6 separate regions of the Homo sapiens genome follow, and regions 2, 3, 4, 5 and 6 are each reported to be linked to region 1. Evidence: microRNA targets listed by miRTarBase, many of them from high-throughput screens and not tested one by one. Region 1 holds a microRNA gene; each other region holds the end of a gene's coding sequence.

The links. Region 1 holds the annotated microRNA hsa-miR-511-3p (AAUGUGUAGCAAAAGACAGA, at 1,410-1,429, shown strand). A microRNA usually pairs through its seed, bases 2 to 8, with sites in the 3' UTR of a target mRNA and lowers its output. Matches are read on the target gene's strand: a 7mer-m8 pairs with bases 2 to 8, a 7mer-A1 pairs with bases 2 to 7 and ends in A, and an 8mer does both.
Region 2: the mRNA of LPP is a reported target of hsa-miR-511-3p. Seed matches in the 3' UTR shown: 7mer-A1 at 939-945 and 7mer-m8 at 980-986.
Region 3: miRTarBase lists CTSE as a target of hsa-miR-511-3p. Seed matches in the 3' UTR shown: 7mer-A1 at 570-576 and 7mer-A1 at 595-601.
Region 4: miRTarBase lists SDK2 as a target of hsa-miR-511-3p. Seed matches in the 3' UTR shown: 7mer-A1 at 2,359-2,365 and 8mer at 2,364-2,371.
Region 5: miRTarBase lists GPBP1L1 as a target of hsa-miR-511-3p. Seed matches in the 3' UTR shown: 7mer-A1 at 823-829.
Region 6: the mRNA of C12orf60 is a reported target of hsa-miR-511-3p. The part of its 3' UTR that is shown has no 7-base or 8-base seed match.

Annotation. Positions count from the first base shown.
Region 1 is chr10:17,843,751-17,848,825 of GRCh38, forward strand. MIR511 (microRNA 511) reads left to right here and starts at 1,357; the gene lies at 1,357-1,443. MRC1 (mannose receptor C-type 1) reads left to right here. Exons shown (of 30, transcript NM_002438.4): 6 at 1,539-1,685.
Region 2 is chr3:188,873,670-188,878,744 of GRCh38, forward strand. LPP (LIM domain containing preferred translocation partner in lipoma) reads left to right here. Exons shown (of 12, transcript NM_001375462.1): 12 at 682-5,075. The coding sequence ends at 810. Among named protein-coding and RNA genes, the nearest start is that of TPRG1-AS1, 71 kb to the right of the region's middle.
Region 3 is chr1:206,005,515-206,010,589 of GRCh38, reverse strand. It overlaps CTSE (cathepsin E), which reads left to right. Exons shown (of 9, transcript NM_001910.4): 9 at 243-1,326. The coding sequence ends at 407. Among named protein-coding and RNA genes, the nearest start is that of RAB7B, 4.7 kb to the right of the region's middle.
Region 4 is chr17:73,334,342-73,339,416 of GRCh38, reverse strand. SDK2 (sidekick cell adhesion molecule 2) reads left to right here. Exons shown (of 45, transcript NM_001144952.2): 45 at 477-5,033. The coding sequence ends at 830. Among named protein-coding and RNA genes, the nearest start is that of CDC42EP4, 25 kb to the right of the region's middle. RefSeq lists an enhancer at 1,786-2,685.
Region 5 is chr1:45,623,759-45,628,833 of GRCh38, reverse strand. GPBP1L1 (GC-rich promoter binding protein 1 like 1) reads left to right here. Exons shown (of 13, transcript NM_021639.5): 13 at 426-1,530. The coding sequence ends at 578. CCDC17 (coiled-coil domain containing 17) reads left to right here and starts at 4,780. Exons shown (of 13, transcript NM_001114938.3): 1 at 4,780-5,075. The coding sequence starts at 4,925.
Region 6 is chr12:14,823,204-14,828,278 of GRCh38, reverse strand. It overlaps C12orf60 (chromosome 12 open reading frame 60), which reads right to left. Exons shown (of 2, transcript NM_175874.4): 2 at 3,864-5,075. The coding sequence ends at 4,606. ART4 (ADP-ribosyltransferase 4 (inactive) (Dombrock blood group)) reads left to right here. Exons shown (of 3, transcript NM_021071.4): 3 at 1-2,710. Among named protein-coding and RNA genes, the nearest start is that of SMCO3, 12 kb to the right of the region's middle.

The DNA of each region.
Region 1 (5,075 bases):
TAATTACCACACAAAGAATACCACCAAAACTTTAAAAAGGTTATTTAGGTTATTACCTGCTCCAGACTTTGTGGAGCAGGTAATATGATTTCCGTCTTGCAGGAAAGGAAGTGACATTCAGGCACAGGTTACATACACATTGGAGGTCACAAAGCATAGGTATTAACAGAATGTGGCTCATTCACCCTGTCTTCAGGTGGAAGGTGAAGCTAGTTTGGGGAGTACTGGTTTTTAAATCATATATTAGAGTAGCAAAACGCATGTGAAATGTATCAATGCCTACATTCATCCCTTTAGCAACGTTGACTTTATCTGGTTCTTTAATCAGTTTCCACTAAGAAATGGATAAGGCATAGCTGCTGAAAGTCTTCTTCAGTAGGCTGAGTTGAAGATATTGAGACAGTTTTAGTTCTGGGAGCACAGCATGCTGCCCATCTAGCTCTCCCATTAGCTTTTTCTCCTCCATTTATTTTTATTTTTATTTTTGAGACAGAGTCTCACTCTGTCACCCCGGCTGGAGTGCAGTGGTGTGATCTCCACTCACTGCAACCTCTGCCTCCCAGGTTCAAGCAATTCTCCTGCCTCAGCCTCCCAAGTAGCTGGGATTACAGGTGCCCGCCAGCTCCCCGGCCGATTTTTTTGTATTTTTAGTAGAAATGGGGTTTCATTATGTTGGCCAGGCTGATCTCGAATTCCTGACCTCAGTTGATCCATCCGCCTCAGCCTCCCAAAGTGCTGGGATTACAGGCGTGAGCCACCGTGCCCTGCCCTAATAATGTTTAGTGTGGCAGGTTTGGAACATCATGTATTCTTTCTTTTTAATAAATTCTACTTGTAGATTCAGAGATACATGTACACGGTTGTTACATACCTAGGTAAATTGCATGTTGCTGAGGTTTGGGATATAAATGATCCATCCCATCAACCAGGCAGTGAGCATAGAACCCAGTAGCTAGTTTTCCAAACTTTGTTACCCTCCATTCCTCCCCCATCTCATAGTCCCCAGTTTCTGTTGTTGCCATCTTTGTGTCCATGAGTACTCGGTATTTAGCTCCCACTTAGAAGTGAGAACATGGCTATTTGGCTTTCTGTTCTGCATTAATTCGCTTAGGATAATGGCCTCTAGTTGCATCCATGTTGCTGCAAAGGACATGATGATTTCATTTTTTTTTATGGCGGCATAATCATGCATTCTTTTCATTAGGTACCTCTCTTTGATAATGTAATCCGTTGTGACAACTGTTCAAGTTTTAAGGTGTAGCTTTATTAGCTGATAATGGGGGAAAGGGTTGTTTCAAAGAAGTATATTTGCTTTATCAACATTCTAAGTATTGGAATGATCCAACGATAAGAAAACAATAGACACCCATCGTGTCTTTTGCTCTGCAGTCAGTAAATATTTTTTTGTGAATGTGTAGCAAAAGACAGAATGGTGGTCCATTGAATCCCCAGGATGAAGACATGAGGAGACGTGGGAGGGATGCTATCTGCTGGGAATAGCTATAATAGTCCACTTTAACTTTTCCTTTTCCTCGAAGGAAGTCCATCAGCTGAACCTGGAAAAAGCTGTGTGTCACTAAATCCTGGAAAAAATGCTAAATGGGAAAATCTGGAATGTGTTCAGAAACTGGGCTATATTTGCAAAAAGGGCAACACCACTTTAAATTCTTTTGTTATTCCCTCAGGTAAGTGATCTATGGGATCTGAAGTGCCTCAACTATTAGAATTGAAAGATAAGTAACATTACAGCTTAGGTGTAACTGTTGGAATGCCGCCAGAGGTTTTGTGGATAGTTGATGGGGTAAACTTAATGATATTACTGCAATATTTCTGTGTGCTGGTTGCTAGTATTTCCTGAGTGTGCGGCGGTGTCTGGGCATTGTGGAGATCCTCTGACCTAAATAAAAATGTTACCTTCCCAATCAGTCCTCTGAGGTAGGTGTCATGATTCACATGCTATAGTTGAGGAAAAAGATATTCAGAGGATACAGAAACCTTGCAGACATGGCAAAACCGGAATCCAAGCTAGAAAGTCAACATTTGGAAGGGATGTTTATATTAGGTCCTCACGGCTCTATCTGGGCTTCCTTGCTATTCAGTGTAGCGTCTTATACTAAAGTTTTCATAAAATAGAATAAAATATCTAAAAAGTTGTAACTGAATTTTATTTATTTATTGAGACAGAGTCTCATTCTGTCACCCAGGCTGGAGTACAATGGCGCGATCTCAGCTCACTGCAAACTTCGCCTCCTGGGTTCGTGATTCTCCTGCCTCAGCCTCCCGAGTAGTTGGGATTACAGATGTGTGCCATCACGCCCAGCTAATTTTTGTATTTTTAGCAGAGATGGTGTTTCGCTGTGTTGGCCAGGCTTGTCTTGAACTCCTGACCTTGGGTGATCTACCCACCTCAGCCTCCCAAAGTGCTGGGATTACAGGCATGAGCCACCGTGCCTGGCCTGTAACTGAATTTTAAATATCGGCTAGACTTCAAGAAAAAAAAAAATCAATTGTGTTGTCCCTTACAATTTTATAGGAGAATAAACTACTAAGGCAAGAATTCTTTCTTCCAATTGATGAAAGACAAACTACATATTTTTTATTATTACCTCTTTTTGGAGGGACAGCGAATGCTTTAAATGGTTTAATTTATTTCTGTTTTTCTGCTGGAGGAAACTGACAATGTGGCATTCTTGTTTTTTTCTTCCCATTGGCTTTGAAAGCAATTTCATGTATTTTAAAATACGCTTGACATAGCTAGAGATTCAAAAGATACAACATGATAAATAATAAGGTTTTCCCTACCTCTCACCTGTAACACCCAGTTTACCTTCCTGGAGAATAATTGTTTCTGGGTGTGTATCCTTAGTTATTCTGTGACTATATAAACAAATATATTTATAATTATTTTTGTTTCATACAAATGGCAGTATACTATAATATGTTTTTATCCTAAGTTTTCCACTTAACAACAATTTTGGACATCATTCCACGTAGAATATAAACAGCTTCTATGTTTAATTTTATGGCTGTCCAAAAGCTATTGCAGAGACAGCACATATATTTTTTTGACCGATCTCCTGTGTAATGGATTTTTAATTTAATTTACTTCCAATCTTTTATTAATACAAACAGTCCTGAGGTAAATAACTATATACATTCTATGCACATCATTTCATGCATGTGATCATTCCTGGAAGTGGAATTGTTGGATTAGGGAGGAGATGTGTTTGCAATTTTAATTGATATAGATTTGGCCAAGATCCTAAATAGATATAGATGCGGGACCTGGATGTTGGGTTTGATTATCCTTTACAGGCTCTCCATAGTGACGGTGGGTATCTTTAGAGAAAGCTCACCATTTTTGCATTTTACCTCTACTATTCCTCCTCTAGGAGAAATAGTGTATTTTTTCCTTTTTTGGAAGCCTTCATTACAATTCTCTTTCTAAGACTTGGAATTTCCATGTTGCCAAAGAGGAGAATAGTTACTTTATAGTTTCTCTGGTACAGCACTCAGAATTCTGTAACTTGGCCTTACTGCTTAACCTGCCGGTGCTGGGATCCTCATGTGTAAAATGGAAATGTTCATGACTCTTCTTCCTGAGATAAAATTTTGTTCATTTCATCAAACACTCAGTACATTCTTATTCCTCCATGATGCCTTCTTCACTCGCTAACCACTTGATGTCAGTTTCTGAACATCTCTATACTCCCTGGATTAATGATTCTGTTTTATCTATAAACTCAAATAAACCAGAGCTTGGAAAAGCGTATCAGAGTTCAAATTATGCAGCATACGGGATTAGCAACAGCCTTAGGCAAGAATTCAACCTCAAACCCTGTGAATTATTGTAACACTAACCCGTTTGTCCATAATCCTCAGGTCTCTAGGGCTGTACTCTCTGGCTTAGCAGCCACTTAACCGCATGTGGCCACTGAGCACATGAGCTGTGGCTAGAGGAACAAATCATCTTCTGTGGCTGCCCCAGGGAACTCCCCTTCATTTCACTCAAGTTGGTTGTTTTCATGCTTTCAAATATGTTTAAAGTTCATCATTTCAGTTTTTGAAGGACAGCATTGGCTGATACTATTTTCAATTTCCTAGGTAGCAAAATTAAAATAACCCACCAGAGGGCTCCAAAGCTGTACTAAGCTTGCTTTCTTTTTCTTTTTCTTCTTTTTTTTTTTGTAACCACTGGAAGTGCACAGAATCTAAATTGTATTGAGGGAATAGAATTTTTTTAAATATGCATTTTTTATTACAATTGTACAGCATTTGAGCCTCATGACTGAGTAGTTACTTGTATGACTGCAGGGCACAAAATCCTGGGCTTAAACAATGATGTTTCAGATACTCTCCACCTTTAAGGGAAGATACGACCAATTCATCAAAGGAATAGTGAAGAAAGGTACCCTATAACGAACATATACTAAGACAGCCATTTGAAAACATTTAATATGAGCTTAAATAATATATACGTTCACTTTCATTTGGCAATATAGTCCCCTTCTAAGCAAAACATGTTGCCAAATTACTGTTTGAAATAGTATCTCTAGAATAGTAATAACAAGCAGCCATATATCAACTATAACTTCAATTCTTTTTCTCTTCCAATACTCAATACGCTTATATGTACCAGGCCCTGTGCCAGGCTCAAGGCAATAGGGATGAATAAACATCTGCCTTCAAATGTCTTTATTGTCACTTTCCCCTAGCTCATTACTATTAAATTTTTGCAGCGTATAATCAAGATTATACAATTTGATCCTATTAGTAGCGAGGCTGAGGATGTTGACAGCTGGTTTAATTAAATAATGATTGTGTGGTGCTTGTGATTTACAAGCACACTCTCTCTATTCTTTTCTAGTTCAGAAGAACATGGGGTGGGTGGTTTGATATTAGTGTTAGTACTAATCTCATTTAAAAATTTTCACCTATATGGGTACTCCTTTTCATGTGATGTGACTTGCCGAAGATCACACAACTTACCGCAAATTCAGGTTTTAGGAGTTATGACTCCAGATCCCTCTCCTAGTCACAAGCACGTGTCAGTTTTGGGTAGCAACTAAATGGTA
Region 2 (5,075 bases), not on the chromosome of region 1:
GTCGGCCTGTGTGCATTGAGGCAGACTGTAGCAAAACTGTGGGTGGTGCTCAGGAGGCCTGTCCCCTGGACTAGCAATCTTTGCTCTCCACAATGCTGTCTCCTTTAGAAAGTACAGCAAACCACTACTCCCCACAAACTTTAGGATTTTATTTTCTTACTGCAGTTGAAGTAAATACACCGAACCCACTGGTGGCCCTTCTGCTTGGCAGACATCAGTCTACCTTTGCTCTAGGCCAGAAATGGCCAAAACATTCCATTCCTGTACCTGTGCATGCATTTTGAGAGATCCTTAAACTAATGGTAAAGGGTAAAAAATGCATCGGTGGTTAGGGACATTCTTATTTTCTCTTGTTGAGTGGGGGCAGCAAACTTCTACATGGGAGCCAAGATGGGTGGCCTCTTCTCTTCTTATACCTGTATTTCATATCAAGTGAGCTTAGGAGGATTATATTTATGTCCATTTATATTTATGTCCCCAATCTCTAATTCAATTACATTCAAGATATACTATGTTATATATTGGGAGAAAGGATACAGGGGATTAGCAGAATGTAAAGCAGGAAGGATAGTAAGTGGCCACATTATGGAGGCCTTGAATAGAAAGCTCAATCATGATGTTCTCCACATGTGTACTTAACGTTTTTACTTATGTCGTTTCCATCTGTCTTTACTGTTCTAGGATTGCGGTGGTCTCCTGTCTGAAGGAGATAACCAAGGCTGCTACCCCTTGGATGGGCACATCCTCTGCAAGACCTGCAACTCTGCCCGCATCAGGGTGTTGACCGCCAAGGCGAGCACTGACCTTTAGATTCAGTCACCTGTTCAGCCGGCACTGAGAAGAACGAACACAAGAAAAAGATAAGAAATACTAGAGTAAAGGCCATCAAACTACGCGATAGTCTCTGTTCTTCATCTGCTATTAACCTTGCCTTAGAAACACATAAATTATGAGATTTTTTTTAAAAGTTGTTACCAAATACACATTTCACATTGAATCATGTAGGATCTTGATGGGCCTTTGTTCCCAAGGACTTCCACATTTTTGCACAGATTATGCTCCATCCCATTCACTTCTGCATTCCTGTAACTTTTAATCCCTATGTTTGTCTCACTTTTCATCTGGTTGAATGGCTTTTCTTAGTGTGGTATTTGCTGTCACATAGTTTTTCCTGGGTGAGTCTGCCAACTCACAGGTGCTTTTAGGCTTGAAATCTCCATCCTATCATTTCCGTTTTGCCTGTGACTGTAAAGAGTAGCCATTCTTTTCCCATGTATTGAAGAGGATATTCTTCTCTTGCTTTATACTACTCACGTCCTTGGGGAGGGAAATGCACAATTTTTTTTTGTTAGGCTGTAAAGAATTTAAGCTGTAAATTACATAAGTTAGAACAAGCCCAAATTTAATTTGCAACCATCAGAATTCAGAATCTATAGTGACCAGTGATCAAGGCTAATTGGAAAAGAGTTATCGGCCCATAGCTAATAAGTAGTGACAGACAACCAAGCTTCAATATTTTTCTAAAGAAATTACAGGTGGGATATGCTAGAAAAGGCATTTTGGGGTTATGTTTAAAAAAACATTATTGTCCCACAATATTACCTTAAGATTTTTCTTTTCCGCACTACCTGAACATTGTAATACAGACAAACTTGATTTCTTCTAGAAGATAACATTTTCAATACTGTCCCACTTCTCATCTTAAAAATATTGTCATGTTTATTCTAATATCCAACACAACTATCAAAATTGCCTTTTTCTCTAGAGGATGAAGGCTGTGAAAAAACCGTTCAAATTCTCTTCTTTTTCTTTTTTATTACCAGGTCCATTTTGCCTGACAATTGCAAATCAGAGCATACAAAATAAAACTGTGCAGTTTTGTTTGGTTTACTTTCAAAAGAGTAGAAAGCTTGAAAAGATTCTGAAACCACAGTTTCATTATTCTCATAATCCTTCTGCAACTGAAATTACATATTGCAGGAGACATTTTCATATCATCAATGTGACATTTACACCACACTTTCAAAGACAATCACTGAAACAAAAATTGTCTTTATGAGCTAAAAATATGCAGAATCTCTGCCTAGAATCTTTATTCAAACTTTTATTAGCCAGTGAAACACTTGCTTGCCAACTGCCAAGCCATACTTATTAAGTTCGAACATGTTTCACTTAAGGAGAGACACCTAGCTTAGTCATGGCAAGTTGCCATTTTGTAAACTAAGGATTTTGGACTGAGATTTCTTAAATCTTTCTTCAAATCTCCCACAAGTATATACTTTTAAATTATGGAGTATTTTAAGTCTACAAAAAGGTATAAATAATAATATAATGAATTCCTATATACCTAATACCCAGTTTAAGACACCAAATATAACAAGTATAATTACATCCTCCAATGTACCGTTTCCTTATTCCACAGATATCTTTTTCATTATTGTGAAGTGATGTTCAGATTTCTAGTTTTTTTTCTAGTTTTTAATTTTAACATCAGAACTGAAATAAAAAATTATGGATACGTGTTTTGAATTGCAAACTATTCCTCAGGAATTCCAATTAAATTTATTTTACTTGAATAGGAATGATCATAAAAGTGATTCTTTTTTTGTGACTAGAAATTCTTAAGCCGATGGTCACTATAGCTCATCCTTAATGTATGGCTCATTTGCTTTTGTCACTAAACGGTTTTGTGTTAGAACCACCAAAATTATAGCTTTTAAGAGCTTCCTTTGACCACTGTCTTTTTCTTACCCTAGTTCTCTTATCTTTGATCGTATATTTCTCATAATGTGAAATATGATGAGATTCACTTAGGGGCAGCATGTTAGTTTTGGGAGGCAATGTCAACTGTGTCTCTGAATTCCTGTCTTCCAAATTGAAGCCAGACCATGCTGATGACCTCAAGTAGCACTGACTATTTGACAATAGGGCTGATAATGTAATCGGCTTGAATTTTGACTTAGTAACTTTTTATGTAATACTTTCGGAGAAATTCTCTTTAGGACAAAGCAGAGAGTCCAATTTATTGAGGGATAGATTGTATCTCTTAAAGTGGTCATATTATTATTAATTTTGCCAAAAGAAGAAGAATTTATTGAATATTTATACTATAAAATGCAGTAACATTCTACTTGCTTATTACATTTAAATCCTTGTGTAACTGAATGTTTACATGTCAAGAGGAAAAGCTGTAAGAAAATGCTGTCACAGACCCATCCCTGTGGCATCGTCAGCAGAATACTGCTTGCTTACAATCTTTATTATGCATTCTTATAACATAACCTCAGAGTATCTTTACCAAAGGTTTTTAAAGTAAATCTCTTTTTAAGATAGACTTATTCTTTTATAATAATGAATGTGCACTCATACATATGTAGAAACATTTAGATTTAGAGTTTTTTTTTTCTTTCACAAGGTATAATAAGGAAAGGATCCTACAATATTTTATTCTAGGGTTTCTTAAATATATGATTTATATTACTGTCTTTTCTATTAATCATTTGATTTAAACAATGCCAAGTCACTCTTTTTTAGTTGCATGAAATTTTGCCTGCAACAGAGAGAAAAAGATTGTATTACTTTAATGATTATAATCATACTGTCTGCTGATATAATATCATAATTGTTGTGGTTTAAATACATAAATAGTAGAAAAATCAGAGTCTATAACAGAAAGTTTGTAAAAATATACTGATTTTGAAAAGTATCAGGAATATAAATATTTGGTAATTCTGTGTAACAAGAGAGACATGGAAAAGGAAAAAAATCCACTATATCATGGGCTCTGCAGAACATATCAAAATAGGATTTCTTAAATTTTTCAACCCCCAGACCATACTGACTCAACATGGAGTCTCACTGGCCAAGAAAATTGCCTTTAAAACTCGAAAATAAGGCCAGGTGTGGTGACTCACACTTGTAATCCCAGCAATTTGGGAGGCTGAGACAGGAGGATTGCCTGAGGCCAGGAGTTTGACACCAGCCTGGGCAACATAGTGAGACCTTGTCTCTACAAAAAATAAAATAAAATAAAAACCAAATTAGCCAGACATGGTGGCATGCGCTTGTTTAAAAAAACAAATAAATAAATAATCGACTCAAAAATAAGTCATGTGTCCCAGCATAAGGCATCAGGTTGTTAGATGCTGGCATCTCTGCAGCTCAAAGATGTGGGTTCTTTTTCTTGTCATTAACACATTGTTATTTCTGTAGGAGCAACTTCTCTGATCAAAATTACTTTTCTGGGTATGTGCTGATTAAGGGGGTGGACTTATCAACACTATAATTGTTCCCTATGAAAGATTCCACAGAGATGTTTATGGTGAGGTTTAAAGGATATGAAACTCTACATTTAAACAAGTATTTTATATTTGGGTACAGAGGAAGAAAGAGAGGGCTTTTTCCATGGGGCTATAGTAGAGAGTTAGTGGAATATAGACAGGACTCTGAAAACACAACTTCCAGCCATTTTTTTAGTTAGTAAAAATCCTATTAATGTGAACCAGCCAGGAATAACAGTGTTATTTCTATTGGATATGGTTTGGGCTTCTCTTGTCAAATCTGTGTCGGCTGCCCCCTGATCCTTCCATTATCAAGTTTTGAAGGGTGTTGGGGAAATTATGGCAGCTGCTAGGGAGATCAGGGAAACACTGATGTAACCTCAAAGCCTCTCACCATTCCTCTTGGCTTGGAAAGGCTTTATTTTTTCATATACATTTCTAGAAATATTGCTATTCTACCTTAGTATTTCACATTTGTAGTTCAAACAAGCGATTGTCCATCTGTTGCCTAGAGCTATAGTACATGTGTGTTATGAATGAAATATGACAGCATGTTCCATACCCCTGCTTTAGCCATCTGTGGGAAACCAGCAAACTGAAAAAGACACCTCTGCAAAATGTGCCTCAAGTCCATTTCTTGGGATCGCTCGTTTGGTGCACTCTCGTGGGAGACAATCAGAGAACAACATATACTTGTGCCTTATTTTCAAAGAATCTATTTACACTACTATGAATATTCCACTGAAGAGTCAATGATGTAAATGATAACCACCAAATCTCAAAAATATACTCACC
Region 3 (5,075 bases), not on the chromosome of region 1:
AAAATTGTAGAACATAGACCCCAGGCCCATAAGAATGGACTTGTGCAGACAAACACTTTATTAAGCAACCTAGGGTAGGGACATATGAAGCAGGAGGAAGAACCCACCGACCAAAATGGTGGAACCCACCAGCTGTCCAAGGCCACCCAGTGCCAGCCACCACCACCACACAGGCAGCCTCCAGGCAGTACTACTACCTTCTTCCCCCGTTTGTCATTTGCATCCTTCTTTCCAACCCACAGGACTTCGTGGATGGAATGCAGTTCTGCAGCAGTGGCTTTCAAGGACTTGACATCCACCCTCCAGCTGGGCCCCTCTGGATCCTGGGGGATGTCTTCATTCGACAGTTTTACTCAGTCTTTGACCGTGGGAATAACCGTGTGGGACTGGCCCCAGCAGTCCCCTAAGGAGGGGCCTTGTGTCTGTGCCTGCCTGTCTGACAGACCTTGAATATGTTAGGCTGGGGCATTCTTTACACCTACAAAAAGTTATTTTCCAGAGAATGTAGCTGTTTCCAGGGTTGCAACTTGAATTAAGACCAAACAGAACATGAGAATACACACACACACACACATATACACACACACACACTTCACACATACACACCACTCCCACCACCGTCATGATGGAGGAATTACGTTATACATTCATATTTTGTATTGATTTTTGATTATGAAAATCAAAAATTTTCACATTTGATTATGAAAATCTCCAAACATATGCACAAGCAGAGATCATGGTATAATAAATCCCTTTGCAACTCCACTCAGCCCTGACAACCCATCCACACACGGCCAGGCCTGTTTATCTACACTGCTGCCCACTCCTCTCTCCAGCTCCACATGCTGTACCTGGATCATTCTGAAGCAAATTCCGAGCATTACATCATTTTGTCCATAAATATTTCTAACATCCTTAAATATACAATCGGAATTCAAGCATCTCCCATTGTCCCACAAATGTTTGGCTGTTTTTGTAGTTGGATTGTTTGTATTAGGATTCAAGCAAGGCCCATATATTGCATTTATTTGAAATGTCTGTAAGTCTCTTTCCATCTACAGAGTTTAGCACATTTGAACGTTGCTGGTTGAAATCCCGAGGTGTCATTTGACATGGTTCTCTGAACTTATCTTTCCTATAAAATGGTAGTTAGATCTGGAGGTCTGATTTTGTGGCAAAAATACTTCCTAGGTGGTGCTGGGTACTTCTTGTTGCATCCTGTCAGGAGGCAGATAATGCTGGTGCCTCTCTATTGGTAATGTTAAGACTGCTGGGTGGGTTTGGAGTTCTTGGCTTTAATCATTCATTACAAAGTTCAGCATTTTACCTGATCGTTTCAGTGGTCATTGATGATCATTGCTGAGATCCACACTATAATTAGGGGCGGCAGAACAGGTGTTTTTCTAATTCTGCTATCCCTTTGGCATTTGTTAGTTGGAATTCTTCTATAAAAAACATAGGCTGGGTACAGTGGCTCACGCCTGTAATCCTAGCACTTTCGGAGGCCAAGGCAGGCAGATCACGAGGTCAAGAGATGGAGACTATCCTGGCCAACATGGTTAAACCCCTTCTCTACTAAAAGTACAAAAATTAGCCAGGCATGGTGGCACACGCCTGTAGTCCCAGCTACCCAGGAAGCTGAGGCAGGAGAATCGCTTGAACCCAGGAGACAGAGGCTGCAGTGAGCCAAGATCACGCCACTGCACTCCAGCCTGGCAACAGAGCGAGACTCCTTCTCAAAATAAAAAAAATAATAATAATCTTTGGCTGGGCACGATGGCTCACGTCTGTCCCAGCACTCTGGGAAGCCAAGGAAGGAGGATTGCTTGAGCCCAGGGTGTCAAAGTTGCAGTGATCTATGACCTTGCCACTGTACTCCAATCTGGGTGATAGAGCAAGACCTTGTCTTGAAAACAAGATAAAACAAGATAAAACCTTTCCCTCATCAACCATTTGCCCAGGAAAGAAGACAATTACTTGGGGTTTTGTTTCCTTTGTTTACCAGTTTTCAGAATGAGTTGGTACTATATTAAACACCAAAGAATTTTAAACATATTTGATGTGTTTCAACTCACCAATTTTTTCTTTAATGCCAAATCACCCTATCTTTAGCCAGTGGGTGACCTTCAAATTAGTTCCTGTGAACTTTTCCAGCCCATCTTGCACACTTCCAGTCCCATATGTGGCATCAGCCATTGTTCCACAGAGTCCTGGTTCCTCAGTGGCCTCGGGTAATGATGTCATGTCCCTAAGACACTCACCTCTCAGAGCTGTTGGGAAGAATCAATGATCTTACCTGGGTGGAAGCACCTGGCTAAGAGTGGTAACTTCCCTTCTGATTTGGGTGTCATGCTCAGAGTAGATCACAACTACACATCTGCACACATACATTTTTTGTTTGGTTTTTACTTTTATTTTTCCTTTTTGAGGAAATTATTGCTTTTAAAGTCAATTTAGAACAGCCTGATACAAACGAGCTATGAAAGCAGTGTAGTAGAACAGTTAACAACACTGGCTCCGGAGTCAGGCAGGCTTGGATTTCATTCCTAGCATCAGTTGTGGGACTTCTGCACCTCAGTTTGTTCATCTGTCAAATGGACATCATAATAGGAACTACAGTTGACCCCTGAACAACACAGGTTTGGACTTGCATGATTTCACTTATTCACAGATTTTATTTTTTCAACCAAAGGCAGATCAAAAATATAGCATTCAGCCAGTGCTGTGGCTCACACCTGTAATCCCAGCACTTTGGGAGGCTGAGGTGGGTGGATCACTTGAGGTCAGGAGTTCGAGACCAGCCCGGTCAACATGGTGAAACCCCATCTCTACTAAAAATACAAAAATTACCCGGGCATAGTGGCAGGCGCCTGTAATCCCAGCTATTCGGGAGGATGAGGCAGGAGAATTGCTTGAACCCAGGGGGTGGAGGTTGCAGTGAGCCAAGATCGTGCCACTGCACTCCAGCCTCAGCGACAGAGACTCCATCTCAAAAAAAAAAAAAAAATACAGTATTCTCGGGATGCAAAACCCATGTATGTGGAGGATGGACTTATCCTATATGTGGGTTCTTCGGGGCCAACCGCAGGACTTGGGTGTGCTCAAATTTTAATATACTTGGGGGTCCTGAAAGCAGTTCCCCACATACACCAAGGGACGACTGTGCTGCATGGGGTTATTGTGAGGATGCAATGACATTGCACATACGTAAACATTTACCTAGCTTACATGCCTGTGCTCATCAGGCCACAGACCTTCACTCTGCATAGGCGAGTCTCATAAAAGGCAGAAAGCCCTACAGTAAATGGCTTTATGATTTTTCATCTAAGACAAAGCACCCCAAGAGCCATGTGGGAGCCCATTGTCAGACAGCACCCCTGAGGGTTTTCGGAAGGGCCGTTTCTGTGCAAGGGCTGCCCTGGCTGTTGAATGTGCTGGTCTGGTGCTGGCCAGGAGTCTGAGTAGTGGAGGCTGCAGTGTGAAAGTGATGCCTAAGCCACACAACATCATTCAGTCTTCACAACGACCCTGCTGGTTCTGCCACAGAAATCCTTCTGTGATCTGTTTCCTTGTCCCCACCCTCCAGTCATTACCTTTCACCAGAAATATTCCAGGAACATCCTGACAGTGATTCTGTCTCTTGCCCTCCGACAAACCAGTGCCTGATCGGTAAATATTTCTGAAGCCCAGCTCTAATCACACCCTTCCCCTGATGTACACTTCGCAATGGTGCCCCGCTGCACGCCAGATGCAATCCAAGCTGATGCAACTTCCAGGGTTCCCAGGGCTTTGCCTCAGTTTGACCACTTGTTCTCCCTGGACATCTAGTCTACCCTGCACCAAACGGAATCATCCCGATTTTCTTACTTGTACACTTAGTCCTAGGATTCCATCTCCTCTGTTCATCAGAGGAACATGCCGTTTCCCCAAAATGACTCCCTTTCAATGAGTGTTAAGATGACAGTGAAAAGCTGTCAGACACAGTGCTGTGAGACACTAGACTGAAATCTCAGCCCATGGGATGCACTGTGAAGGTGCTCAGCTATGACTTGGAGCCCTTCCCGTACACTCTGTCTTCTGCCAGCCAGAGGTTCAGCATCTCCTCTCCCTGGCCCCACATCGTTTCTCTGCATATTGAGCCTGACTTCCTGCTCCATTCACCACACATCTGCACAATCCTATCCTCAGCATCCTTCAAGCTCCAATTCAAGTGCCTCCTTTCCATAAAGCCCTCTTCGACTTCTCCTAACTAGAACTAATCTCTCCTTCCTCTAAATCCCCACAACCCTTAAGCTGTGTTTCTTATGCCATTATTTGCTCCATGTTTTATTTCCACTGAAAAAATGCAATTCTCCATTTCTGCACCCTTGAAAGGGTCTGAAAGGCTCAGATCATTGAATGAACACCTACAGGAGGAAAGGAAGGAAGCAGTGAGGATGAATACAGCGTCAGGGCCTCCTCTGCAGGGTCGAAGCTGGCGTCATTCTCCTCTGGAGCATGTGTCACAGGAACAGAAGGGAAATTGCTGACTTTTCATCCACGTGGCTGGAGGAAGTGGGGACTAGAGTCTGAGGGTGGCTGACGACTTGGCTTCCAAAGGTGTTGGGATAGTTCTGCAAATAGACCCTGAAAGTACCAGTTTCAGTCCCATGTGCAAAGGCTGTAAGGACCAGCATGGACAGTTCACTTCCCATTCCCAAAGCACCCTCGGCAGCAGTGGGCCCCACAAGAACGCTCACATCTTCTCTAAAAGAGGATCAAATGTGCCTCTACGCCCCTGTGGGGGCTTGCTGTCTAATCCCTTCTCTCTCTCTCTCTCTCGCACGTGCACACACACACACACACACAAGTGTTCACTTAAAACTTGGCCTCAGAAAAAAGTAGAAGACTATGGGAGGAAATTCTAAAGGGCAACAATTTAAGAACAAGTCAGTCATCAAAAATTAGTGGTTGGCCTGAGGGTGGCCTGATGCCCGCTTTCCCAAGTCACCCAGGTGGAATATTTGGGGTGAATGTGCTCTAGGGTGGAGGTTTTCCAGCTTCAGTGTGTGCCACCCAGTGCTGCTCTCCATGGA
Region 4 (5,075 bases), not on the chromosome of region 1:
AACCCCTAAACATACCAAAAAAATTAGCCAGGCGTGGTGGCACATGTCTGTCATCCCAGCTACTCAGGAGGCTGAGGCAGGAGAATTGCTTGAACCAGGGAGTCAGAGGTTGGAGTGAGCCAAGATCATGCCAATGTACTCCAGCCTGGCAACAGCGAGATTCTGTCTCAAAAAAAAAAAACAAAAACAAAAACAAAAAAAAACTCAGGTCTTCTGATTCTATCAGGTATCTCCCAGCTCTGGGCCAACCCCATAGTAGATCCTTCCGGTTCCGGATCTGCTGTGAAGGAAGCAGCAGGCGGGCACAAACGGGCACCAGACCCCCTTGGCAGTGAGGGGGCTGGGAGGCCCACAGTCCAAGTCTTGAAAGAGGCAGAGCAGAGTTTTGAACCAGAATGCCCTGTGCCTTCCGGCCCCAACCACAATGGCCTGTCCCTACGGGGCCACTGACACACCCTGATTCTCTGTCCTCCCAGGGAAGTGACAGCGAGTACGAGGTCGACTCAAACCACCAGAAGGCCCACTCCTTTGTCAACCACTACATCAGTGACCCCACATACTACAACTCGTGGCGGCGACAGCAGAAGGGCATCTCGAGGGCACAGGCCTACAGCTACACGGAGAGCGACTCGGGTGAGCCAGACCACACCACCGTCACCAACAGCACCAGCACCCAGCAGGGCAGCCTCTTTCGGCCCAAGGCCAGTCGGACTCCAACGCCCCAGAACCCCCCTAACCCCCCAAGTCAGCAGAGCACCCTCTACCGTCCCCCCAGCAGCCTGGCCCCAGGCTCCCGGGCTCCCATAGCAGGATTTTCATCATTTGTTTGACATCAGAAGAGGAAAAAGCAGAAAGAGAAATGGCACCAAACTCCTCCTTCACCCCTCCTCTCACTGCCTGCCAGAAAACAAAAACACCAAGAAACCAAGTCAACTTTTCACCTCCTGAGTTTATTTTTCCAGAGATTCCAGGGCCAGCAAAGCCGGCGTTCAGAAGGAGGGAGAAAACCGTGAGAGGATGTGTGTGGCCAGCAGCTCTTCAGCTTTGAGATGGTGGGGTTCACTGCTCCCTTGGGAATTACACGGAGCTGGGGAAGTGGCTGTGTCACTGCTATGGACACGGAGTGGGGCGGGCATCTGGAGAGAGAGAGGGAGCGGAGGCTAAGGACTGGAGGCCGCCAGGCAGGCGTGGCCGAGGGAAGAAAAAGCTTCTGGATGTCCAGCCAGCTGCCCCCTTCCAGCCCCTCCAGGACCCCTGGACCCACTGCCGCTGCTCTCTGCAAAAAGAATGGGCATCCCGGAGGCCACGCCTATCTTCTCTCTCTGCTCCTCCTTCCCTCCATGCACCATCACTGTGGCTGGCAGGCATCGGACAGCCTCATCCAGACCCCCTGCCCTGTCTTGGCAACCTCTACTGCCCATCTCCCCTGCTCAACTTCTCCACCAAGCATTTGGTTTATTTAGAAAAAGGAAGAAAAACAAAAAACAAAAAACTAAAGGGTGAGAATTTGCTTAGCGCCTTCCTTGTTCCTGCATATTTTTTAAAATATTGAATCCAAGGAAGAGAGCCCAAGGGTAGGGGAGAAACCCCCCACAACTGACCCCTGCCTCCCTGTGCTGGAATTGACTTTCCTGAGCATGGACAAGGAAAGGTGAAGTCTGGGGAGCAGAGGTGTAAATAAGGCGACTGGCCTTGGCACTGTGGGATGATTAGGTTTAACGCATTGTGGGCAAGATAAGAATGACACTTTGACTGTTCTCTTTCTTCCAATCCAGGTTCCATCCGTCCTCTCTTTAAAGGGGTAGTCAGCTTCCCAAGGCTGGGGAGTGGGGCACAGCTGAGGGATCTCCCTCTGGGCAGACACGTCACTCTCCACTGGATAGATCCTCACCACACACACACACACACACACATCTCCCATGCACTTACAAGGAACAGGGTCTAGGGATCCTCTCCAGAACAAACTCATCTGGGCCCTCCTAGCCAGACAGCACACTCACTTTCAGATCTGTGTCCCTCTCACTGCCACCCGGCAGCCTCCTAAGCACAGAGGCACAGGAGCCCAGAGGGGTGGCCCAAGTCCCTGGTCCAGAGGCTGGAATACCCAGAGTTTGCTCAGTCAGCCTAGCACCCAGTTTACAGGCAAAAAGGCAAAGACACCCTAACCCCCAGTAACAGCTTCCAGGCTGGGCTCCGCCTGGCCAGGGCGGGGAGGGGAAGGGGCAGGTCAGGAAGCTCAGTCCAAAGTGGACCCAGCATTTGAATTGCACGCCCAGCAGGGGCAGGTCAGATGGGACCAAGTGACAAGAATAGCTGATGGGAGGGAATGCTTTTACACACACACACACACACACACACACACATACACATACACAATCTGCTCCAAGGAGTGTTCTGCAAAAAGCCACATCCAGTGGCCAGGATCTTCCCGTCCACTTGGTACTTACGGATGCCAGGGTTTAGGGAGAAGCCTTTCTATCTAACTCCATACATTGTCCAAGGCCCTCTGTGCCCTCAGCCAGCCCTGTAAGGCCAGCCCAACACCTGCCCCACCGCTGAGATGGGTGGCAGATGGCCCACAGGGGCCTGTCTGATTCAGCGTGAGCCCCTTCGTGGAGCAGGGCTCCCTCTGTGCACTGTGTACAGGCGCTGCTGGCCCTGCCCAAGAGATGATGCTCTGTTGGGGTGGGTGAGCAGAGTTCAAGGAAGCCCAAGTAGGAGATTTGGGAAACATGCCAAGGTAAGAGAGAGCCTGGACCACTCTCCTACAGCCCCAAGTCAGTCACTGTGCTAATGGTGACCGGGAAGGGAAGTCAGGGTCTGGGGCCCAAAGAACGGGCACACCCAGCCATGAGTTTTTCCTGAAGCACTTGACCCCTGGGAAATGTGAACGGGGAGATGCTGGAAGATGGCTCAGCAGACAGGCCAGCCCAGCTCCAGTGTCCAAAAAGCGGTTTCTCCAATAAGGAGGCCTGGGAAGGGAAGCACAATCTTCCCCAAAGGAGAACCAAGGGCTGAGGTTCTGCCCCTCCAGGAAGTAAGGTGCTCTCGGGGCCTCCTTGGACTTGTCTGGGGGCTGCAGTGGAGTCAGCTGGACACCTGCTCCACCCCTGCCACCTCCGCCCCCACCCTCTGCAGCATCTGGCATCTCCATGGCAGCACATCTGCAGCTGCCGGCCTGTGATCGTGCCGCACAGCTTTCTTTTCTTTCCTCTCATCTTTTTTTTTTTTTTTTTTTTAAATAACTTCATCCCTTTCCCTCTCTGCTGAGCATTTAACCATTTAAGGAAGTTCCCAGTTTGCATTAGGGAATTATTTAAGCCCAGCCCAGTGAGGGATTATTTGGGAGGAAGCAGGAGTGAGTAAAAACATTGTGTCTGTGTATATATTGCACATGAGGTCAATTTTCCTTTGCCTTTAATGAATCACCTGGTGCACTAAGATATTCCACCCCCCCACTCCCCACACGCTCATTCGCACCCATGCTGACACCTACGTGTACATGCGGGATGGTGCCCATGCACGCCTGTGCTTACACACATGCACACACAAATATGCACAGAACACACATCTGTATGTGTGTTAGCAAAGAGACTCCTGAACTCCCTCTGATGGCTGAAGCCATCTCTCCCCTGTGAGGCACAGGTGGCCTGGGTTGCTTGCACTTGGGGCGTGGCTGGGATCTATTGTCTGAGAGGGTGAGGACACCACGCAAATTTAGACAAGCCCATGAGATCAGGCTGGGCCCATGGTGAAAGTCCCACACTTAGTCAATACCCACTCATCTGGAATATTGTCTCCACAGCCCCAGCCACAGCTGGAAGCCCAGGCCTGCAGCTGTGGAACTCTAGATTTTTTCAGGACACGTCTCTTTGCCCTTGTTTACATATCTACTGGCACAGCCGAGGCTCCCAACCGTCCTCCCAGAAACCTGGCCACATTAGAAAGGGGTGGTGGGCCCTGCCCTTTGTAGAAAGAGTGGGACCCTTTCTGGCCTGTGATTTTCCGTGCCAGTGATGCCAGGGCCCCTGCCTGTGGGACTCCACCCAAAGCAGGTTCACACCAGGACACACCTGGCACCTTTGGCATTGCCTCCTTGTGCCCTAAGCAATCTCCCAGTGTTGCACCCAGGAGCCCATGCTGGGCACACCAGGGCTTTCCCCTTCCTGGCTGCGCCTCCAGAGTTGACGTCAGCTCCACACCCACACTGCCAAGACAAACCAAAAAGATGCTCTGGGCTCCAGAACCACCATCCTCCTAGGGCTCCAGAGAGTTTGCAAACCCAGGCTGCCTCCCCTTCTGTCCATCCCTCACCCCCCGGCCCCCAAAACTCCTACCCCCAAACCTGGCACTGCCGTGATTTAGAGGAAACAAGGACACAGCGGGGGCTGCCCCCACCTGGTGCACGCTGCCTCAAGGCCTTCTGTTGCTGCCCACGCCTCCCTGGGCAGTGCTTCTAAAGGTGCCAGAGCCTCACCACAGTGCCACTCTGGCTGGGCAGGGGCTTCCCTCAGCTTCCCAGAGTGCACATCTGAAGGTGCCTACCCTGGGTGAGGGGCTGGTGGGCAGGAAGGTAAAGGGGAGACCATCTGAGCAGCCGCCACCCGCTCCCCAGTGCCTCTGTATGGCCCTATCCAGGGACACCCATGGGCATGCGCACATGGCAATCCTGACCACCACCTGAGCACAGGTGCCCCCTCGGGACCACCCCCCTTCTCTTTGTTTCCATCAGAATAACCAAAAGCATTTAAACGTGTTACCTTTCTCCATCCATCTAGACTCCAGAAACAAAAATCAACACAAATCTTTATTTTTTGATTTAAAAGATATAACAAAAAATTATGGGGAGAGTATTCATTATGGCAGGTGTCTGTCTGTAAGAAAAAAATATATATCTCTATGTCATATAGCGTGTTAGCAGGTTTATTTTTTAAATGAAAGGTAAGAAAGAAATTGATTTGAAATATATACCACAAGAAGTCCCGTGTCCTGTCAAACTGTCAGTATTTTATAAATAAACTTTTTTTTTTGGAGATTTGAAGCAACATTCTTTTCCTTCCTGTTACATGAATGGG
Region 5 (5,075 bases), not on the chromosome of region 1:
AAATTAACTAGGCGTGGTGGTGTGCGCCTGTAATCCAAGCTACTTGGGAGGCTGAGGCAGGAGAATCGCTTGAACCCAGGAGGCGGAGGATGCAGTGAGCCAAGATTGTGCCATTGCACTCTAGCCTGGGTGACAGAGCGAGATTCCGTCTCAAAAAAATAAATAAATAAAAAGAAATAAGGACTTTCAAGCCCCATCCCAGACATTCTGAATCTGAATCTGCATTTTTGAAAGATGCGTAGATGACTCGTAAATTAAAATTTGAAAAGTACTGGTATAAGAGATCTCAGAGGGTCTCTTAGAAGCACCCCCCGCCCCACATTCTACCTAGAATTGAATTGAGGCCTGGCCTTTCCCAGGGCTTATGGGTCAGTACAGTCATTGATATTTTTTTCTTTTTTCTTTCTCTCCCATGCTAACCATAGCTGAGAAGAAATGGCTTTGGAAAGAATGGCTTCTTGCAGAGCCGCAGTTCCAGTCTGTTCTCCCCTTGGAGAAGCACTTGCAAAGCAGAGTTTGAGGACTCAGACACCGAAACCAGTAGCAGTGAAACATCAGATGACGATGCCTGGAAGTAGGCATATAAATGCTCACAGTTAAATCTGACCCAGTAAACTCTGTGTGTTTAGGGAGTATACAAAAGAAATCGTTCTTTTCCTTTTCTTATGTTGTTGAATACTTCATTCACAAGGGAAATAATCATATCCCAAAGAGAGAGCAATTGGCTTGTTTTGCTTTTGTTATTGTTCTTCCCTGTTATCTGCTTTATAGAGAGAAGTTTGTGTGGTGGGACAGATTTTTTAAACACACTCACACACACACACACATACACACCCAGTATATATGGGGCGATGCACAGGTAGGAGCTGGCAGTGCAGGGAAGAGGAGACACTGGTCTGCAGCAACAGCTTCTACTACCAGCCCTTGGGGCACTCACCCCTGTGATCAAGCAATCATTGTCAATGACAAAGTGACTATTGAAGTTATAATTGTATTAAATTAATGCTAATAATTTGGATATTTTATTTTATTTTTGGCTGCTCGGGTAACTTTAGCCCTTAACCAAGCATATGTGGGTTTTTTTGGTTGTTTTTTTTTGTTTTTTTTTTCTTTTTCCTTTTTGGGTACAGCTGTAAAATATTTGGATATAGGAAATGTTGTGTTATTCTTGCAGCCTTGATATTCAGGGTGGATTGTAAAATATAAATTTTTGTGAGATTTCAAAGATTAAGATTATTTTGATAACATTATTTACAGATTTAAAAGATGTGGTTATCACAAGTCTCGAGGGGGAAACTACTGCATAAAATAACTAACTTGGAATAAATATTTTGCATCAGTTTGGATTGTCTTGTGTAAGAAGTATATTTTCTTTAAAATTAGATGAGTGGATTCTTTTTTAGGGGAAATATTTTTAGAAGTTGGGGGGAAATGTGAATTCAGACACAACTGTTTCTCTATTTTAGCAGATACTTTTTTGATGCAGAAAAACCTGTGCAATAAATTACCAGTAATAAAGTCAGAAACCAAGTTTTTTTTTTTTCCTGAAACTGTTTTTTAGTGCCCATGTATTTACCAGTGTACGTATTTTAAGGGAAGTCTGTTCTGTTTTCCTACTAAATAAGAACTTGGAGTGGGGGTTGGGGGAGAGTTGGACGATGGTAGCTGAATGGCTAGTGAAGGAAGCAGGTTTTTTCATTCAACAAATACTTTTTTTTTTTTTTTGAGACGGAGTCTCACTGTGTCACCCAGGCTGGAGTGCAGTAGCGATCTCAGCTCACTGTAAGCTCCGCCTCCCGGGTTCCCACCATTCTCCTGCCTCAGCCTCCTGAGTAGCTGGGACTACAGGCGCCTGCCACCACGCCTGGCTCATTTTTTGTATTTTTAGTAGAGATGGGGTTTCACCGTGTTTGCCAGGATGGTCTCGATCTCCTGATCTTGTGATCCACCCACCTCGGCCTCCCAAAGTTCTGGGATTACAGGCGTGAGCCACCGCACCCGGCCCATTCAACAAATACTTTCTAAGCCCGTGTTGTATGTCCCAGGCATTATGCAAGGCTCTGAGGATGCAAGGAGTGCCCAGCCCAGTAGGGGAGAGAATAGACAGTGATGTAAGAAAAGGACAGGGGTTCAAGACCAGCCTGGGCAACACAGTGACCTGTCTCTATAAAAAACAAAAACATTAAAATGGTCAGGTCCAGCCAGGCGTGGCTCACGCCTGTAATCCCAGCACTTTGGGAGGCTGAAGCGGGTGAATCACCTGAGGTCAGGAGTTCGAGACCAGCCTGGCTAACATGGTGAAACCCCATCTCCACTGAAAATACAAAAAATTAGCCAGGCATGGTGGCGGGCGCCTGTAGTCCCAGCTACTCGGGAGGCTGAGGCAGGAGATTGGCGTGAACCCAGGAGGCAGAGCTTGCAGTGAGCTGAGATAGCGCCACTGCACTCCAGCCTGGGAGAAAGAGTGAGACTCTGTCTCAAAAAAAAAAAAAAAAAAAAACAACCAGGCATGGCAGCAAGCACCTGTAATCCTAACTATTTAGGAGGCTGAGGCAGGAGAATTGCTTGAGCCCAGGAGGCAGAGGTTGCAGTGAGCCCATACTGCACCATTGCACTCCAGCCTGGGCAACAGAGCAAGACTCTGTCTCAAAAACAGAAACAAAATAGACAGGTCCACGTGGTAGCACACACTTGTAGTCCCAGCTTCTTGGGAGGCTAAGGCAGGAGGATTGCTTGATTCCAAGGCAGTTCAGGGCTACAGTGAGCCATGATGGCACCACTACAATCCAGCCTGGATGACAGTCCTGCTCCCGCCTCTTCGGCCTAGAGCAGGAGATTAGAGAACTACAAGCTGTCTCTTGAGGGAAAAAAAAAAAAAATGGTAGTAGTATTTCTACTGAATGCCTATCACTGTTGCACCATTGTAAAGTCAACCAGTCAAAAGTCTTAACCATTGAAAATTGGGACAAACTTAGTTGTTGAAAAGGAGGTTTTGATTTGGGCTTTGCCATTTACTTGTTTTCTGAGAACATATTTCTAAAAATGTACTCTTTATGTCAGTTGGAATTAAGCTGAACTGAGATGACATACTTTGAACACTTTGTAACTTGCTGCTGGTGGGTCATACCTTGGCTTTAGGTACTGAGTAGGGAAATGTCTTAAGTCCCTGTCTTGTTTAGAAAAGGGAGTTTCGGCCAGGCATGGTGGCTCACACCTGTAATCCCAGCACTTTGGGAGGCCGAGGCGGGGGAATCACGAGGTCAGGAGATCGAGACCATCCTGGCTAACACTGTGAAACCCCGTCTCTACTAAAAATACAAAAAATTAGCCAGGCATAAGGCTGGGCGCAGTGGCTCACGCCTGTAATCTCAGCACTTTGGCACGCCGAGGCGGGCGGATCACAAGGTCAGGAGATCAAGACCATCCTGGCTGACACGGTGAAACCCCATCTCTACTAAAAATACAAAAAAAATTAGCCGGGCACAGTGGTGGGCACCTGTAGTCTCAGCTACTCGGGAGGCTGAGGCAGGAGAATGGCTTGAACCCGGAAGGCGGAGCTTGCAGTGAGCCCAGATAGTGCCACTGCACTTCGGCCTGGGCGAAAGAGCGAGACTCCGTCTAAAAAAAAAAAAAAAAAAAAGCCGGGTGTGGTGGCAGGTGCCTGTAGTCCCAGCTACTGGGGAGGCTGAGGCAGGAGAATGGTGTCAACCTGGGAGGCAGAGCTTGCAGTGAGCCGAGATCGTGCCATTGCACTGTAGCCTGGGCAACAGAGCGAGACTGTCTCAAAAAAAGAAGAGAAAAGGGTGTTTCTTGGCCGGGCGCAGTGCCTTACGCCTGTAATCCCAGCACTTTGGGAGGCCAAGGCGGGCAGATCACGAGGTCAGGAGATCAAGACCATCCTGGCTAACATGGTGAAACCCCGTCTCTACTAAAAAATACAAAAAATGAGCCAAGCGTGGTGGTGGGCACCTGTAGTCTCAGCTACTTGGGAGGCTGAGGCAGGAGAATGGCGTGAACCCAGGAGGCAGAGCTCATTGCAGTGAGCTGAGATCGCGCCACTGCACTTCGGCCTGGGCGACAGCGAGACTCCATCTCAAAAAGAAAAAAAAAAAAGTAAAGAGGGTTTCTTAAGAAATATGCGGTCACCTCAGAGCTCCTCCATATATTTTGGGAGTGGGAGTGGAGTGAAGAATTTCACCAACAGTTCAGGGTCTTTCTGGCTTCTGGCCAATCTTGGGAGAGAGAAGGGGTTTTTTTCTGGACTTGATTCCCTCATCTGATAGATTCATTCTGTTCGCCCACAGCTTTCATTTCTTGGGCTGTGCTGATTATCTTCGTCTACAGCTGAAAAATGAGGAATCAGGGAATGGGAGTTAGGGAGACTGCTATCCCTGGTGCGACATGGTTTCCAGGCAGAATGCTGGAAAGGTCAGAGTGCCTCCTTTGCCAGGTAGTTCTCTGGATTGGAGAATGGTACAAACTGTTACATCCACTTGGGAGTACAGCAATGAAAAAGATGACACTTGCCTTTTAGAGGCTATTAAATGACCAATGATGTAGTAAGTGATAAGGGCCCAGCCTAGTCTAGGAGGCAGCTGCTTTTTCCTCTTTATTAATAGTCAGGGAAACCAAGCTACAATTAGAGACTTGCCCACGTTCAGACTTTGTAACACTTTTTCAAGCCAGTGGCTCCTCCCAAACGGCCGAGGTTTCCCCACCCATTCTCCTGACCTGCCCAGCCCTGTGGTTGCTGTCCAGGGAGCTAAGGCTCTCCCCAAACAAACTTGAAGATCTCACAGACCTAATAGACACGGCCTTTCCTCTCTGCCTCTGGCTTTATGTCTCTTTCATCCTCCTCTGCCTTTCCCCTGCCCTTGATCCCTTCTGCAGGTCTTGGCTGGTTTCAGGAAACGGGTCCCATCCCATGGACTCCCACTCTGGGGAGCCTGCGCTCCTGCCCTGTGGGACCTGTGACATGGTTTTCCGCTCCTCAGCTCTGTTAGCCACCCATACTCAGCGCTTCTGCATTGGCCACCCGACCCAAGAGATGACATTTGGAGCACAGGCATCAGTTG
Region 6 (5,075 bases), not on the chromosome of region 1:
GCAAATTTAAATATTAGGAAAACATGAGGGTATGTGTGAAGGTTAACAGAGAGTATGAGAGAAAAAAACACTGATTACAAACAAATATCAGCAATATAGCGAGGTCTCATTACATGTAAACTAGTACATGCAAAGAAGTATAAATTGTTGAATTGTATAGCTGGAAATGTCCTCTAACGCTTCCCTCAGGTAGTAATTTAGGTAGCGACATAAGGGATTATTTAACCCGATCACGATCACTGAAGACCCTGGTATCAGGCTAAATGGAGTAAAGATGAGGGCTAGCTCTATAATTTTGGATTTTGAAAGTCCATGCTCCTTATCCCTTTTAAGATTTGGATAAGAAACAGCAAAACTGAAAATCGGTCCATCTATTTACTCTCCATAGGACTTCCTGAATGGCCTGTGTCATGATCAAAGAAATGGAATGGGGAATAAGCTACATAAAATTACCTGGCAGGGAGTTCAGGCATCTCTGTACTATCATTCTTTAAATTGGGATTTGAAACTAACAGGGCCAAATCACCTCTGTCACCTAGTTGCAGTAGCCTCTACAGTCAATAAAGGAAAGAATTTCTGCCAGGCATGGTGGCTCACCCCTGTAATCCCAGCACTTTGGGAGGCCGAGGAGGACGGATCACGAGGTCAGGAGTTCAAGACCAGCCTGGCCAGCATGGTGAAACCCCGTCTCTACTACAAATACAAAAATTAGCCAGGCATGGTGGCACGCACCTGTAATCCCAGCTACTTGGGAGGCTGAGGCAGGAAAATTGCCTAAACCCAGGAGGCGGAGGTAGTGCAGTGAGCCAAGTTCACACCACTGCACTCCAGCCTGGGCAACAGAGTGAGACTCGATCTCAAAAAAAGAAAAAAAGAAAGAATTTCTACAAACAGACAATTTATGTGACTTGCATAGGATAGGGTCTTTGGCAGTTTGGTGGCTACCTAGTAGAGAGTCCTGGGGACATGGCTCTGGGAGCAAGCTTTTCCAGTGAGCATCGATGAGTCAGTAATGACATGCTATGTTGGTAAAAGCCACCCAACATCTTAAGTACATTTTTCCTGTGCCATATAAATGCATGTATTGAGCCATACTGTGTACAAAGCACTTTGGGGATTAAAAGTTAAGAACACTAGGCCAGATCTCTCATGAGTTTACAATCTCTTAGGAGAAATTAAGAACATAAAGCAAGCCACAAGTGAAATGCCAAAAAAAAAAAAGGCAAAAATCAAGTTTTCTGTTCATAACAATTCAAAAGAAAGATTTCTTCCAACTGAGGCAAGAAGAGACACCCGGAAGGCTTTAAGTAAGAGGCTGCATTTGAACCAGCCGTTAGGGCTCTAGGCTGGGAGAAGGGGTGAGCAGAAGGAGAAAAAAACAAGAAAGAGTATGTGCCAAGTGCGTAGTGCCCAAAACAAGGCCAAATATTAAATGCTTGGAGCTGAGAGAAAAATGTGATTCCTCTGGCCTATGGTTAGATAAAGCTTTCTATCAGAGATGATGTTTTACTTAGAGGAAAGCAGAAAATAGAAGCGAATACGGAATGATCGATGTATGTACAGCATAAGGTCAGGGAGCAGATAGGTCTGGCAGAGAGTGAGGGGTAATGTGGGCTGGAGAGGAAATTGGAAGCCACTCAGTGAAGCTAAAAAGTCAGCCAAAAGCATTTGATTTCCATGAGAAGTCATAATTTTCTGAGTAAGACAATTCTCCTAAAGCGTTGACTCTCTAGGCACAAGCAGCAATAGCATCCTTTAAGAACTCATTAGAAATGTGAATTTTAGGGCCTGATCCCAGACTACAGACTACAGAAATTGAACAGTCTGTTTTAATAAGTCCTCTAGATGATTCTGCTATACACCAACATTTGAGAACACTGTGACTTACACAATTATGATCCTTAAGGGAATAGCCAAGTTTCTAAAAAAGATAACTTAGTTCTAACTCCTGCTGCTGTTTTACAGATCAAATCTCTGGAGACAGAAACTATTCTCTTAAAATTATGTAGATTCATGAGTTTGGTTAAGGATAAATGTACATAGCTCACATCCCCTCAGTCTCTCCCTATAGTCCAAAGTTGTTGAGCAAGGAATCTGTAGAGTATTGATTTAAATTGATTAAGTTACATGTTTATGAAACTCTAAGAGACTAGTTTTAGAAATTTCACTGTAATTTCTGCTGGGATAAATTTGTTAGCCTGGGATATCTTCCAAAGATAAGGCGGATGCTCAAATATGTGTAAATTCATGCAACTGTTAACAGAGACTGTGCTGTAAGGAGTACTTATGTCCTATAGTAATTTTATTAAACAAATACATGTATGTCTCCTTTTGATGTGTACAGAAATATACTGTTTAATCTGAAGAAGCTGATTGAAACAGGAAAAATTTAAAAAGTAAAAACACTCAACCCATGTAATACTTTATTTTTATAACAAGGTGTTCTCTTTAATACGCCTATTAGATTATCCTGAAGTTCTCTATTTACTCTTACTTTAAAAAAAATCCAATGAAAGAAAATTTCAGTAAAGTTTGTTTTGCTAGAAGAATCAGGATTCTTGTACTGAGTTGTCTAATAATATGAATCAAATTGATTTACACTGAATGAACTAGCTCTTGATTTGGTAAAATTCAACAAGCATTTATTAGGTGCTTTCAGAAATACCAAGATGCAGCAAACACTGGCAACTAATAAAAAAAATTACAAGTATAATAGTATTTCATTTTTTTTAATAGTAAATGATCATGTGTTGTGTTGTGTGGCAGTTCACTTTTTCCTCCCTACTGATGATTCATTCAAACAGCTAGGCCATCCCATGCTCACAGCCTAGAGGAGGAATGAGACCAGGCATAGTATAGAAACACACCCCACTTTGTTCTTCAAAAACTGAAGGATATTAGAGAAAATGAGAGGAACCCAAAACCAAAGTATTTGAGAGAAACATTAAATGTGAGTAATAGGTTTGAGAAAAAAATACAGCTTTTCCTCAGTATTTCCAGAAGCCAGGAGGCAGCAGCAGACATGATGTCATTAGAGTGGTCAGACTGGTGGTACCCAGTGGTGGGAAAATGTGAAACACTGTAAGTGATCACCAGCCTAACAACAGCCACCAGCACTGGAAGACCACTCATCTTTATTGAAGTGGGCACTTCCCATCTCTAACACCCTGGTTGTCATTCCCATTGGCATCTGGCAAGGACTTCCTGTGAACTGCCACCAGCTATTCTTCCAGTCACCTCACAGAAAGACTATGCACCAAGACTTTTCTTGGTCCTTGTCTCATTCATTTCCATATGAATCCCCCTAGCTGTTGCATCCAACATTCTGAAACATAATCCTAAAACTAAAAGGAGATTGAAACCCTAGACACATATAGGTCCAGAAAAAGTAGCAAAGTGAGAGTCCTGTCTCCCTTCTCCTCTCTCTCACCCTCTGTGTGTGTGTGTGTGTGTGTGTGTGTATGTGTATGGTAGCAAATGAATCAATTTAACATCCTCTTCAAAATAATAGAGTTCTTAATAGAAACCTATTACAAATAAGCAAGGTTTCAGCTTTGCTGTGGAGAGAAAATGAGAGTTAATGTATTGAAACTCATCGTTTTTTCCAGAACCTCCAAGCTCTGGTAATGGTCAAAATCCACTTGACCCTCCCTACCAAACATTTTGAAATTATATGAGGATGGAGAAGGGACTCCTTATTTTAAATGACAATGGGAATTACAATGATGGCTTTGGCTTGGAGTTATTATTGCTTTTCCTATTCTCAACAGAGTTCTATCAGGTATCATGTGAAATAGTTAACTTCAACACCAATCTTAGGAGTACATACTCATTTACAATGCATGAGAACCAAAGACTTATGGTAGACAAAGAGACTGCCCTATCTCATTTCTTTAAATAAAGCACATCTCAGATATCCTACTTCTGCAAGTGTTTTCCTTGTGAAAGTCTTTTCTTTGTGAAAGGCTAGAGTACTTCCATTTTTCCACCTCTAGTATTTTCTAATCATAAGACCTCAGGAGACAAGTGAGAATGAACTATCTGTTCTGGTCTTACTCACATAAGCAAGAAAAGTCTATTATTGCTCATTCACTGTTCTCACTTACTTATGAATCATATTTAAAATATTTAGTGATGGCTTCTGATCGTCAAGGTACTGAAGTATATAGAAATTGGTATATGAGTGACAAAAATGGAGTTTATTTTGTTTCCCAGGCCTAGATTTTCTATCTAATGATAATATTTACAGTTTACCTGGATTTCTCACTGGAAATAGAATAGTTAAGAGTGGGAACTACTTTAGGGTTGTTTTAATTATGCTTTAAGATGAAACACAATATTTAGAAACATCCTCAAATGTAATACCACTTTGTTTTTTTCAACAATATATTCTTCTTAGTGACTGACATTTCAAACAGGCTTTCTTAATTATTTCTTTTTATTTTAATAAAGCAAAACTACAGGTAAATGTTTTGCCAGATGACTTTTGTGTACTTATGTTCTAACATAGCACATGTTTGGCACCAAAAGATCTTAGAAACTACTATGAAAAACCATAAGATTTTAAGTAGTTTTCTGACAGAAATGAACATTTCTGTTGCATCCCTACTTGTCACTGGCTTTCTTAAACACAGAAATATTCATTTCCATAGTCTTTATCGCTTTTTGGAGGATCTCTAAGATTGGTCCCATAGCCTTGACAATTTGTTCCAACAAATCTGCTGCTGACTTTGTGGGATTTTTGGAATCCTCAGTTTTTAGTACATCCTGCAGTTTTTTCAAGGTGTCTATCATAGTGGTTTTGGAAGAACCTGGAGGACTTCTGGTTCTCTCAGATGTGGTGACATCTGATTGCTCTTTGGTGTCTTCTGTATAGAAGTCACTTAATTGAAGATTCATGATGGGGAATTTCATCAAGTGTGAAAGAGAAGATTCCAGACTCCCAAGGATGTTACTGCTGTTTAGCACAGAGATGATGACTGGCGTATGGGCACTTTTGAATACTTCTTTAGCTGACTGATGCAACTCCTCTACATTGGTACTCTTCTGAACCACAGAGCACATGGCCATTGCAA